Regions from separate parts of the Homo sapiens genome. Here region 1 is linked to region 2. A link means that fine-mapping ties the variant in region 2 to the expression of a gene that starts in the linked region. Tissue or cell type: whole blood. Region 2 holds a variant in brackets; the other region holds the start of a gene. All regions are shown on one strand. Distances are between the middles of the regions.

Evidence for each region. PIP is the estimated chance that this variant, and not a neighbour inherited with it, causes the effect.
Region 1: it holds the start of PABPC1L, and the variant in region 2 is fine-mapped to the expression of PABPC1L in whole blood (TOPMed, PIP above 0.99).

Annotation. Positions count from the first base shown.
Region 1 is chr20:44,907,840-44,912,986 of GRCh38, reverse strand. It overlaps PABPC1L (poly(A) binding protein cytoplasmic 1 like), which reads right to left and starts at 2,927. Exons shown (of 15, transcript NM_001372179.1): 1 at 2,651-2,927; 2 at 134-327. The coding sequence starts at 2,843. It overlaps YWHAB (tyrosine 3-monooxygenase/tryptophan 5-monooxygenase activation protein beta), which reads right to left. Exons shown (of 6, transcript NM_139323.4): 6 at 4,455-5,147. RefSeq lists a silencer at 2,744-3,073.
Region 2 is chr20:44,882,784-44,887,930 of GRCh38, reverse strand. It overlaps YWHAB (tyrosine 3-monooxygenase/tryptophan 5-monooxygenase activation protein beta), which reads right to left and starts at 2,226. Exons shown (of 6, transcript NM_139323.4): 1 at 2,045-2,226. RefSeq lists silencers at 1,933-2,482, 2,543-2,602 and an enhancer at 1,880-2,496. The variant T/C (reference allele first, on the strand shown) is at 2,529.

The sequences.
Region 1 (5,147 bases), 25 kb before region 2:
CAGGTGCTTGCTGTACCTGAAACTTGACTGAAAGGACCTTGTAAACTGTAAAGTGAGGTGTTGCTTGTCACCCCTCTACCAGGCAGGTAGTTGACACCGATCTACCCAAAGACGTACACCCTTCATCCTCTACCTTGCAAGAGAGGATGTTCCCAAAGGTGGAGAAGGTATCATATAAAGCCTTGTTGTCAATGGAGTCCTCCAGGTTCTTGATGAAGATGTTGCCCACACCTGACTTGCGAAGTCCTGGGTCTCGCTGGGACCACATGATGCGAATAGGCTGGCCTTTGAGCATCTCAAAGTTCATTGTGTCCAGTGCCCGCTCCGCTGGACAGAAGGAAGAGGAGAGAAATTAGCAAGTTTAGGGAATTTTCTTACCTTGATCACCCACCCCTCGAGGTGCTTAACTGGGAGCCAATAAAGAGAAAGTCATTGTCTGGGTCCCAGACAATAAGCCAAGATAAGAGCCCAAATAACTGAGATAAGAGCCCAAAGGCTCAGGAAGGATAAGCTGAGAATTAGTGTGTATGGTGCTCCCCCAACCTTCCAGTTATGATCTCATTCAACCAACTCCCTGCAGCCACATGAGCATGGATTCCTGCCCCTCATTTTACAGATGGGAAAACTGAGAATAAGAAACATGAAAGGTCTGTGGCAGCGTCAGGTCTATTCTGGATTCTAAAGTACACTGAGTGGATAACAATGTCCATATGACAAGGGGTGGCAGCACTTTGAGGAAATTAAAACTCAGAGGTGCTGCAGGGCAGAGCTGAGGTTAGATCTCAAGCAGTCCGGCTCTGGGGAAAGTGGACATTACCTCTCTGAGCCTGTTCCTCACCTGTAAAGGGGGAATGATGGTAATATTACCTACTTTTCCACACCTAACAAAGGGAGATACTACCAACTACCAGGTTGTTGGAGGGACTGAAAAATAAAGAAGGTATGTAAAAGTGCCTTGTTTGTAACTTTGTGCCTGACACAAAATAATGTCTCAAAACAGCAGCCGATGCCCAGCCTCCGGCCACTGCTGCAGCCTGTGTCTCTCCTGGGTGATACACGTGACCTGTTTCAGGGAGTCTGCTAGTGCAGAGACATGGAAGGGGGCTGTGGGGAACACAGTGGAGCAAGTTTCAGGAAGCCCGGATTCTCCACCTAGTCTTATCATAAATACCTGGGGCAAAACCCTTCTCTCTGCAGCACGGTTTCCAGGCCGAGTCCCACTTCATTCACAGGGCTTGGAGGAAGATGGGAAGAGGCAGGAGGTGGAGCAAAGCAGAACAAACAGAAAAGTGCCCAGGAATCCAGCCCAGTAAGGGGCGGGGAACAGGCCCGGCGGAACAACCCCTTCCCTAGCAAACCACCCACTCAGGCAACCACCAGGTTCACCCAGGCGACCTGGCGCAAGGGATCCCTCTAGTGGACGCCGGCCATTTTTTGGGTGAGTTTCTGGAGTCTTACATCAGAATGTTAAAGCCACTATTTTCGTTGTTGTTTCTTTTTTGTTTGTTGTTTTGTTTTGTGTTGAGATGGAGTCTCGCTCTGTTGCCCGGGCTGGAGTGCAATGGCGCAGTCTCGGCTCACTGCAACCTCTGCCTCCCGGATTCAAGCGATTCTCGTGCCTCAGCCTCCCCAGCAGTTGGGATTACAGGCGTCCGCCATCATGCCCAGCTATTTTTTGTATTTTTAGTAGAGAAAGGGTTTCGCTATGTTGGCCAGGCTGGTCTCGAACTCCTGACCTCAAGTGATCTGCCCACCTCGGCCTCCTAAGATGCTGGGATTACAGGCGTGAGCCACTGCGCCTGGCCTTATTTATTTATTTATTTATTTATTTATTTATTTATTTATTTATTTTAGGTTACCACTTAAGAGCGTTTACGAGGTAACAAGCAGTTACCATTCTTTATGCATAGACAGCAGTTCTCCATTCTTTATGTTATTGGAGAATACGCCTTAGCCCCATTTTGCAGATGAAAAGGTGCAGAGCGTGAAGGCTTGCCCAAGCTCACTCATCCTCTCCACTCTCAACAGAAGTGCAGGCAAACTCATCGGACAAGCTCTAATCAATGCTATCAGCTCTGAGAAAGCGGCCTTGCGGCCTGGAGGCAGCGGTTTTTCAGAGCCCGTGCAGGTAGAGGCGCCCAGTGTGGATCTCACGTCGCGCTGGGAAAGGCCTGAGCCCAAGGCTGGGTTCTCCTGCCTCCCCTGCTCACCAGCTGTGTTGCCTTGGGCATCTTCCTCACCAGGTGCTTTGAATCTCTCATCCTCACAAGCACTCTATAAGGCAGCTAGGACCCCCATTTTCCAGACACGCATCTGAAGCTCAGAATGGTCGAGTAACTTGCCCAGAGTCACACGGCTGCTGGGCTTCTATCCCTGGTCCGCCTGACCCCCACCCCCACCCCCACAAAGCCTGTATCTGTTTTCACTCGACCCTAATCTCTCTCCTCTGTAGAGGAATAGCAGTAAACCACACTAATTACCAATTCCCGTCTCAGGGGCCAGGCCTCTGCCAACGCCCTGTTATCTTTGAGCCTCAGTTTCCCCGGCTGCAAAGTGTAAGATGAAAGCGCAAGCGGCCCAGTTCCGGCTTCTGTCTGTCCGCCTGCTTGTCCGTCGGTCCTTCCCCTCCCGCCCCATCCCCGGGGCTCACCGTCCGCGGGCTGCTGGAAGTTGATGTAGGCGTAGCCCAGCGAGCGCCGGGTGGCTACATCGCGGCACACGCGGATGGACAGGATGGGGCCGGCGGGAGAGAACTTCTCATAGAGCATGGCCTCGGTCACGTCGGGGTGCAGATCGCCCACGTAAAGCGAGGCAAGCGGGTAGCCAGAACCGCTGGCGTTCATGGTGGGCAGGGGGCCGGGGCTGCGGGGCAAGCAGGAGCCGGGTCACCCAGCAGCCCCGCGCTCACCCGGGCGGAAGCCCTCCTTCCTGGGCGCGGGCCCGCCCCTTCCCTTTACCGCCCCCGCGTCCCTGCGCACCAATCGTGGGCGCGCTCGGACGCCCCTCCCCCGGGATCCCTCCTGGGCCCACCCCCCACCTGCGAGCACTTGGGGATCTAAAAGCTACAGGTGGGGACACCTCTGACCCCGCCCTGGGAGGCGGAAAAAGCCTTCAACCTGGCCTTGAGCAGGGCTGCTGGGACTTGAGTGGAGCTCTCAAAACCCCCAGCTCTTTTGAAAGAGCCGAGGACTGGGACGGAAAGGACGCAGGGGACTGAGTTCTAACCCCGGAACAGATGATCATCTTTCTGAACCCGTTTCCCTTCTCTGTAAAATGGGAATGATTCCCTCCTGACAAGAATGAAAGGAGACCCAAACCGCGCTTTTTGCGTTTCACACACAAACGGAATTCCGAACAGGCCACTGTTTCAAAGCTTGTGTAGAGAATTTTACCCTGCTCCATTGAAGATGTCTTCCTCCAGAGAGCCTGATCCAGTCCCACCGTTTCGCACCAAGGATGGAAATGGCTTTGAGACATGAGAACTGGAGACCACTAAGGCCTTTCTTGGTACTGGCTCATATTACCAAGACCCCTTTTCCTGGGATATTCCCTGTCCCTCTGCTAAGCCATTACACATCCATTACACCAGGGAGGTTCACTGAGTTACTTGTGGCTCAGCCTAAATGCGGACAATTGGGAACTAATAGCAGAGCAAGACCTAAACAGAGCAAGACTGTGAATCTGAGCTTGCAGCGTCAATCTGTGGTATAGGGACATTAAAAACAACACAAAAACAAAACAACTACTCCACTGAGCACCAATACTTCACTTTTCCTCTGATAGGACTTTCCTGGTCTCACTGATCCAACAGAGCAGGTAGGCCCCCACTGACTTTTGGTTGAGTGTGGCTTCAACAGGTGGAACAGCTCCTAAACTAGGGACAGAAGGTGCCCATCTGGCTGTCCAGCCTCAGAGTAGCAAGGAAGCACTAATTCTAATCTTGGGCTAAAAAAGACCCCTCTATCCTGATATTTTTCTCTCCTTGTGGTAATGTGGATGTTTTCAGAAGGGGCAAATCCTGTGAGGAACCAGCTCTGCAGGCCACCATACAGTGTGAGGACAGGTGAGACGCCAGCTTGGTGATGACCAAGACTTATGCAACCATAGGTTACCTATTTCACTGGCTTGGTTGTATCTCAGAGTTAAAAAATGGGGAAGGGATGGTGGGCTCGAATACAATGCAAAATAACTGTCCATACCAAATCTTAGAAGTCACTAAAGAGGACCTAATACCTGCATGGTTTGTTGTGGAAGGTAGAGAGGTATCAAGTAACGGGTGTAAAGAGGCTGTTTAATTAATGGTAATTTCTTCCCCTGGATAACACCTTGACTTCTGGTCCTAAATAATGAAATAAAACTGTTTGCCTATTTTTAAAGAAAACAGAGTTAAAAATAAGTGTGATCAGAATAGTTAGCTAGGTCTGGTAACAACAGAGATGGTGGTGACACATCAATTCACAGGCAACTAACTGATAAAATTTTTATTTCACTTTTGAATTTTTACACTTTTCCTGATTATTCTGTGTAAGGTGAAACTAGAACTGTTTAAAAGACATACACAAATCTAGTACATCAATAACCGGGGATTTTTCTTTTTTGCTATACTATTTTCACAACCACGGGTGTGCTTGCTAGGCAATATAACCATCACAGAAGCAAACGTTAGGCAGAATACTGGTAAGAAAAAACAAAGCAAGAAAAGAGCTACCAGATATACAGACAGGCTTGGTTCCACATTCACTACTGCATTTTCAAGCGCCAAGTATTAACTGCACATTTTTGTTCAGCTAGAAAGGAGGGATTTTTTTTTTTGTTTTTTTCTTTTTTTTTGGTTTGTTTTAAATCAGTGCATAAATTTTTCTTTTCTCATTTCAGCAGATGGACAAACAGATGGACTCTACAGCTAAGTGGAATATCAAAGGTAGAGGGGTGATTCTGTGAGACTGATAGGCCTGACTATTCTCAATTCTCCCCACTGCAGTGTTCACGCAACTTCCCTGAATATAGGGTCTCCTTAAACACATCTGAGCACTGACCTGGATGAGTGCACTTGGGAGACCTGGTGACAGGCACAAAAAGCATGATCAGGGCTAGCCTCAATACAGGGAGAAATCATGGATATTTAAAAATACTTTTTTGATTCAGAT
Region 2 (5,147 bases):
GAGAGAAAAAGCCATTAATAGTGAACTCTGATTAAAAAACAAACCAAAAGCTTATATTTAACAATTTACAGTTTATAAAAAAGGCTTAATGATAACCCTGGAAATAAGAAAACCAAGAACCAGAGATTAACATGCTGAAGATTCAGAAAGCTAGAAAATATTGCAGGCAAGATTTCAACCAAATTTACCTGACTCCAAGTCCAGTGCTCTTCCTGCTTCTCTATCCACAGCCGAATGGGCAAAATGCACTTTTTGTAGCGGCCCAAATCTCTGGAGACTCTGCCTAGAGAACCAGCATCATGGGAATTTGCTCAGCCTGGTTTTATAGAGGCTGCCTCCCTGATCTATAGCGCTCCAATTCTAAAATGGCTTCAATATAACAAGCACTGCAAGATGTGAAATGTACAAAAGATTACAGGGTAGGCGTCATACTCCAGGGGCTGGCAATCCATAAATATTTGCTACTGATGAATGAGGATATTCAGTTTGAAAAAAACTAGGTGTATAGTCTAGGCCAAATCACCTCATTTCTCATAAAGACTTCATCTGCAAGATAGGTGAATGGTTTCTTATCTCATTGGAAGGACAGGCCAGGAAAATAATTCTGCAGTTGCTACAGGATTATTAGCCTTCCATTTTGAAAGCCACACTTAAATTTCTAACTTAGGTCCAATAAGATTGACAGGTTTTACACTCACACACCGTGTGTTGCCAAGGACAGGGATCCAAGAAAAATGAGGGCTCAAACAAATGAGATATCCCTAAGTAAGAAATAGGGTACACTGGAAGCAGTCAAGAAGAAATTCACCAAGAACAAATACTTATACACATTTCCAAATGAAAATGCAAAAGCTGCAGTGTCCAGGTCTACAAACTGCATCTGTGTCTGGCTTCACATGAACTGACAGAATGAGAAATGCAGACAATTTTCATATTCTTATAAGTGCTTCACCTTTCTCTTTTGGTTCCCGAGGCTGATTTTATGTTCATAGCATCATCTTGCCAAATTCCATCTCCCACACAGGGCAAGCAAAATCAGGACCTGATGCTATCTAGCCTTACCAAAGAGAAATGCAATGAAGGCAACGACAAGAAACATGTATTTTACAGAAAGGTTGGCAAATTGCTTACCAAGGCTGCCACCTCTGAAAACCCCATTATATGGGAGTTCTCCATTTGCGGCAAAGATGCACTCACCTTCCCACCTCTTCTTCCCTCCGCTCCCCACCCCCCGACCAGGAAGCCACCGGGCAAATTTCAGACCGAAAAACGTGCTAACACACAATATGGGGGAATTTGGGGTAAAGACACAAAAGAATCTGGCATTAAATGACGGTAAATACTGTGAGAAAATACTCCGATTCTCACCCCCTGATATTTTTTCCTGGGGATCCGGCCTGACTCAGTAACCGGCTCCAACAAACAGATTTTCTTGATTCAAACCCAATTCCCTTCCTAGGGAATCTTGGGTCCTGCCAGGCTCCATAACCAGTGAAGGATGATGAAATGGTTTTACTGCAAAATGGGAGGGGGTTCCCCCACTGCTGTCTCCCAAGGTTAAACCCCTTACTCATCCAGGAGGAGCCAAACACGGGGACTGGGGCTAGAAAACTCATCCGCGTTTGATTAAATTTTAATTTCTGGAAACCAGAAAGCACGGAGCAGAGGTGACAGGGCTGAAGGGGACGTTCTTGCCGACCAAGACGCAGGGAGGGGTCGCGTGGGGCCCGAAGCAGATAGTGAGGGAGGGTCCGGGATCCCCGGCTCCGCTGTCCCTTACGGCACAGTACGGAGTTGCACCCCGCCCGGCCGGCAGGACCTCAGGCGGCCCGAGCCTCTCCAAGAGGTAAAGGGCCCGGCCCCGGAAACAGGGAGGGGCCGCTGCGAGGTCTGGCCTCGCCGCCGGCGGCCGCGCGGAGCGAAAGAGGCAGCGCGCCGCTACCCCACGGGGCCCACCCACTGGGCCGCCGTCGTCGCAGCAGCCAGAGAGGGGCTTCGAGTTTGGGCCCCCGGGGGCCCCGGTCGGACCCCGCGCCGCACTCACCGTGGGAGGGCTGCAGGGAACAAAGACCCTTCCGAGCGAAGCTCCGAGCGAGATGACCTCTTCCTTCCTAAGCCCACTACTCAGGCGGCGGCAGCGGTGCCTGCAGTGGCTGCAGCGGCGGCGGCGGCGGCGACTACCCCGGCTCCGGAATCGGCGGCGGCGGTGGCGGTAGCTCCACTTCCGCTCCGATCGCCACTTCCGCTCCGGTCCTGGCCGCGCCCCGCCCCAAACCGTGTTCTCATTGGGCAAGCGAGGCACGGGGTTGCCACGGCCCCACGGGAGGGGCGCAGACGGAAGGGAGGAGGAAGAAGAGCGAAAGGCAGGGTTGCAGGGGCCGGGGCAGGGCGGATGGCCGGGGGAGGGACCCAGGAGGAGGTGGGCGGAGAAGAAGGAAATGGGGCGGGGGAGCGGGAAAAGGAGGTGGGAGGAGAGAGGGCGGAGCTGGGGGTGGTCAAGATACGGGCTGTGTGGGAATAAGGAGGAC[T/C]AGGAGTGTGGTCTGGATGGGGATTGCCCTTTCTGCTGGGACTGGAAACGCGCCAGGGCCAGTCCCGGAGATTCGAGGTTTAGCAGTTCCCCCTCCACCCCGAAAGTAATCCTCACTGGGTCGGAGGCCGATGTCAGTCCTCTTACTGTGTGCTTTGGTAATGCTGGAGCCAGGGAAGAACAGAAATTGCTCATCCCTCAATGTTCATTTAATCCTTTCAATCCTTCAGGGTACTTACCTTTTCCTTCTTTGGTAGACTGAAGAGGCCACGTGAAGTGCCAGGAATCCAATGCACAAACGTCTTTTTAAAAAACCTGTGTAGGGTCGAGCGCAGTGGTTCGCGCCTGTAATCTCAGCACTTTGGGAAGCTGAGGTGAGAGGATTGCTTGAGGCCGGGAGTTGTAGGCTGCAGTGAGCTATGGTCATGCCACTGCACTCCAACCTGGGAGACAGAGTGAGACCCTGTCTCCAAAAAAAACCCACAAAAATCTGTGTACATGATTTCTTCTTTAAGATGCCCCCTCGTTGAGGAAGTTCAGGGAAGGAAACAGGCCTCCATGGCTCCCCTCCCCTCCATGACTGCTCTCACAATTACCAACATTCTACTCCTCTGAAGGTAGTTGATTTTGTTTTGTTTTGTTTTGTTTTGTTTTCTGTTTTTGAGACAGAGTCTCTTTCTGTCGCCCAGGCAGTGTCACAATCTTGGCTCACTGCAATCTCTGCCTCCCAGGTTCAAGCAATTCTCCTGCCTCAGCCTCCTGAGTAGCTGGGATAACAGGTGCATGCCACCACTCTCGGCTAGTTTTTGTATTTTTAGTAGACACGGGGCTTCGCCATATTGGCCGGGCTGGTCTCAAACTCCTGACCTCAGGTGATCCACCCGCCTCAGCCTCCCAAAGTGCTGGGATTACAGACATGAACCACCTCGACCGGCTTCAAGGTAGTTGATTTTTAAACTCAGTCCTTCAAAATGCCTCTCGCCTTCCCTCTCTCCTGTTCATTTATTCTTTCAACAAATGTTGAACAGGCTTTTTGCTTAGTGCTGGAGACACAGCAATGAACAAGGCAGGTGGGGCCCTGCTGTCTTGGAGTTTGCAGTCGGGTAGGAGAAAAAGCCAAGTAAATAGGCCTTTGCCGTCTTGCCTTTACCCTTACTTAGCTAAATGACAGACTTCTAATTCACCATTTGGTCTCAGCCTCGCCCGTCAACTGCCAAGTGATCTTTTAAAAATACCATTCTAATCGTGTCCTGTTCTTGCTTAAATTATTTAGTGTGCACTCAGACCTAGATGACAATATATAAGTTCCTTGAGTGTGACAATCAGGGTTCTCCAAAAGCTGCCCTTATCCTTTAGCTGCTATTTCTCCCCCATCGTAAATACCCCAATTCAATTGGATGATTCCTTACCCTCCCAATATGCCATCTCCAGTATTTCTAAGCAGTTTGACTTAGTTGCCAACACTTTTTTAAACTGAAAAGTTTCTGTGTGAACAGAAATCTGCCTCTCTGCCTTGTCTGGTAACACTGTGTCCACATTTCTGTGTGGCAACAATTGGCTGAAGCCAAGGAGTGGCTGCCTGTTCTAGACTGGGCATGGACTTTCCCAAATGCCAGGGACCCTTCTCGACCTGAGTCTGCTTTTGTCACTTATGTTATCTGTCATGTAGGCATGTGTGCCAGTGACCCCTGTACTGTGCCACCTTTTAAGTTGAACAAGATTGAGAACGTGTTGTGTAACGTAAACAGCATGGTTTTGGGTCAAAACCATTGGATTTGAATCCTGGAGAGGTTAGTGCAAAAACTTCCCCATGAGGATCGTCTTTGGCAGACCCTAGACCAGTAATCTAGAGACTACTCAGGCTAAGTAACTTTTAATGTCACAAGACTGTGCCTTATGCCGTCATCCAGAAAATAGCCTAATGGACCAGAGGGCTAATAATGATTATACCACAAATGACATCAACAGTGCATTGAGGGAACAGAAGTGCCCTTTGTCAGGCATTCCTAGGTGCCTGTTAAAGGGTTCAATGGATTAGCTTATTTCACCATCTCTGCATTCTAGGCCAAGCGTCAGCAAACCACAGCTATGAACTGACAGCGATACAGATAAATGTTAAAATACAATGTGGTAGGTGCAACCATAGAAATAAATATATGTGCAGGGTATTATGGGAGCTTGGGAGAAGAGCACCTAACCCATCTTGGGAATATGATGGGAGAGCAGGAAAGATTTCCTTAAAGAAGTGATACTAGAGCCTTATATACTGCAGTGAATCTTTTTTCAAATTATAGACTTAATTTTTAAAAATGTTTTTGTAGAGACAGAGTCTCATTATGTTGCCCAGGCTGGGCTCAAACTCCTGGCCTCAAGTGATTCTCCTGCCATGGCCTCCCAAAGTGCTGGGATTACAGGTGTGAGCCACTGTGCCTGGCCAATAGACTTAATTTTTTAGAACAGTTTTAGGTTTACAGAAAAATTGACCAGATATTACAGAGTTCCCACATTCCCTCTCCCTCCTCCACACAATTTCCCCTATTATTAACATCTTGTATTAGAGTGGTACATTTGTTGCAATTGATGAGCCAGTATTAATACATCATTATTAACTAAAGTCCGT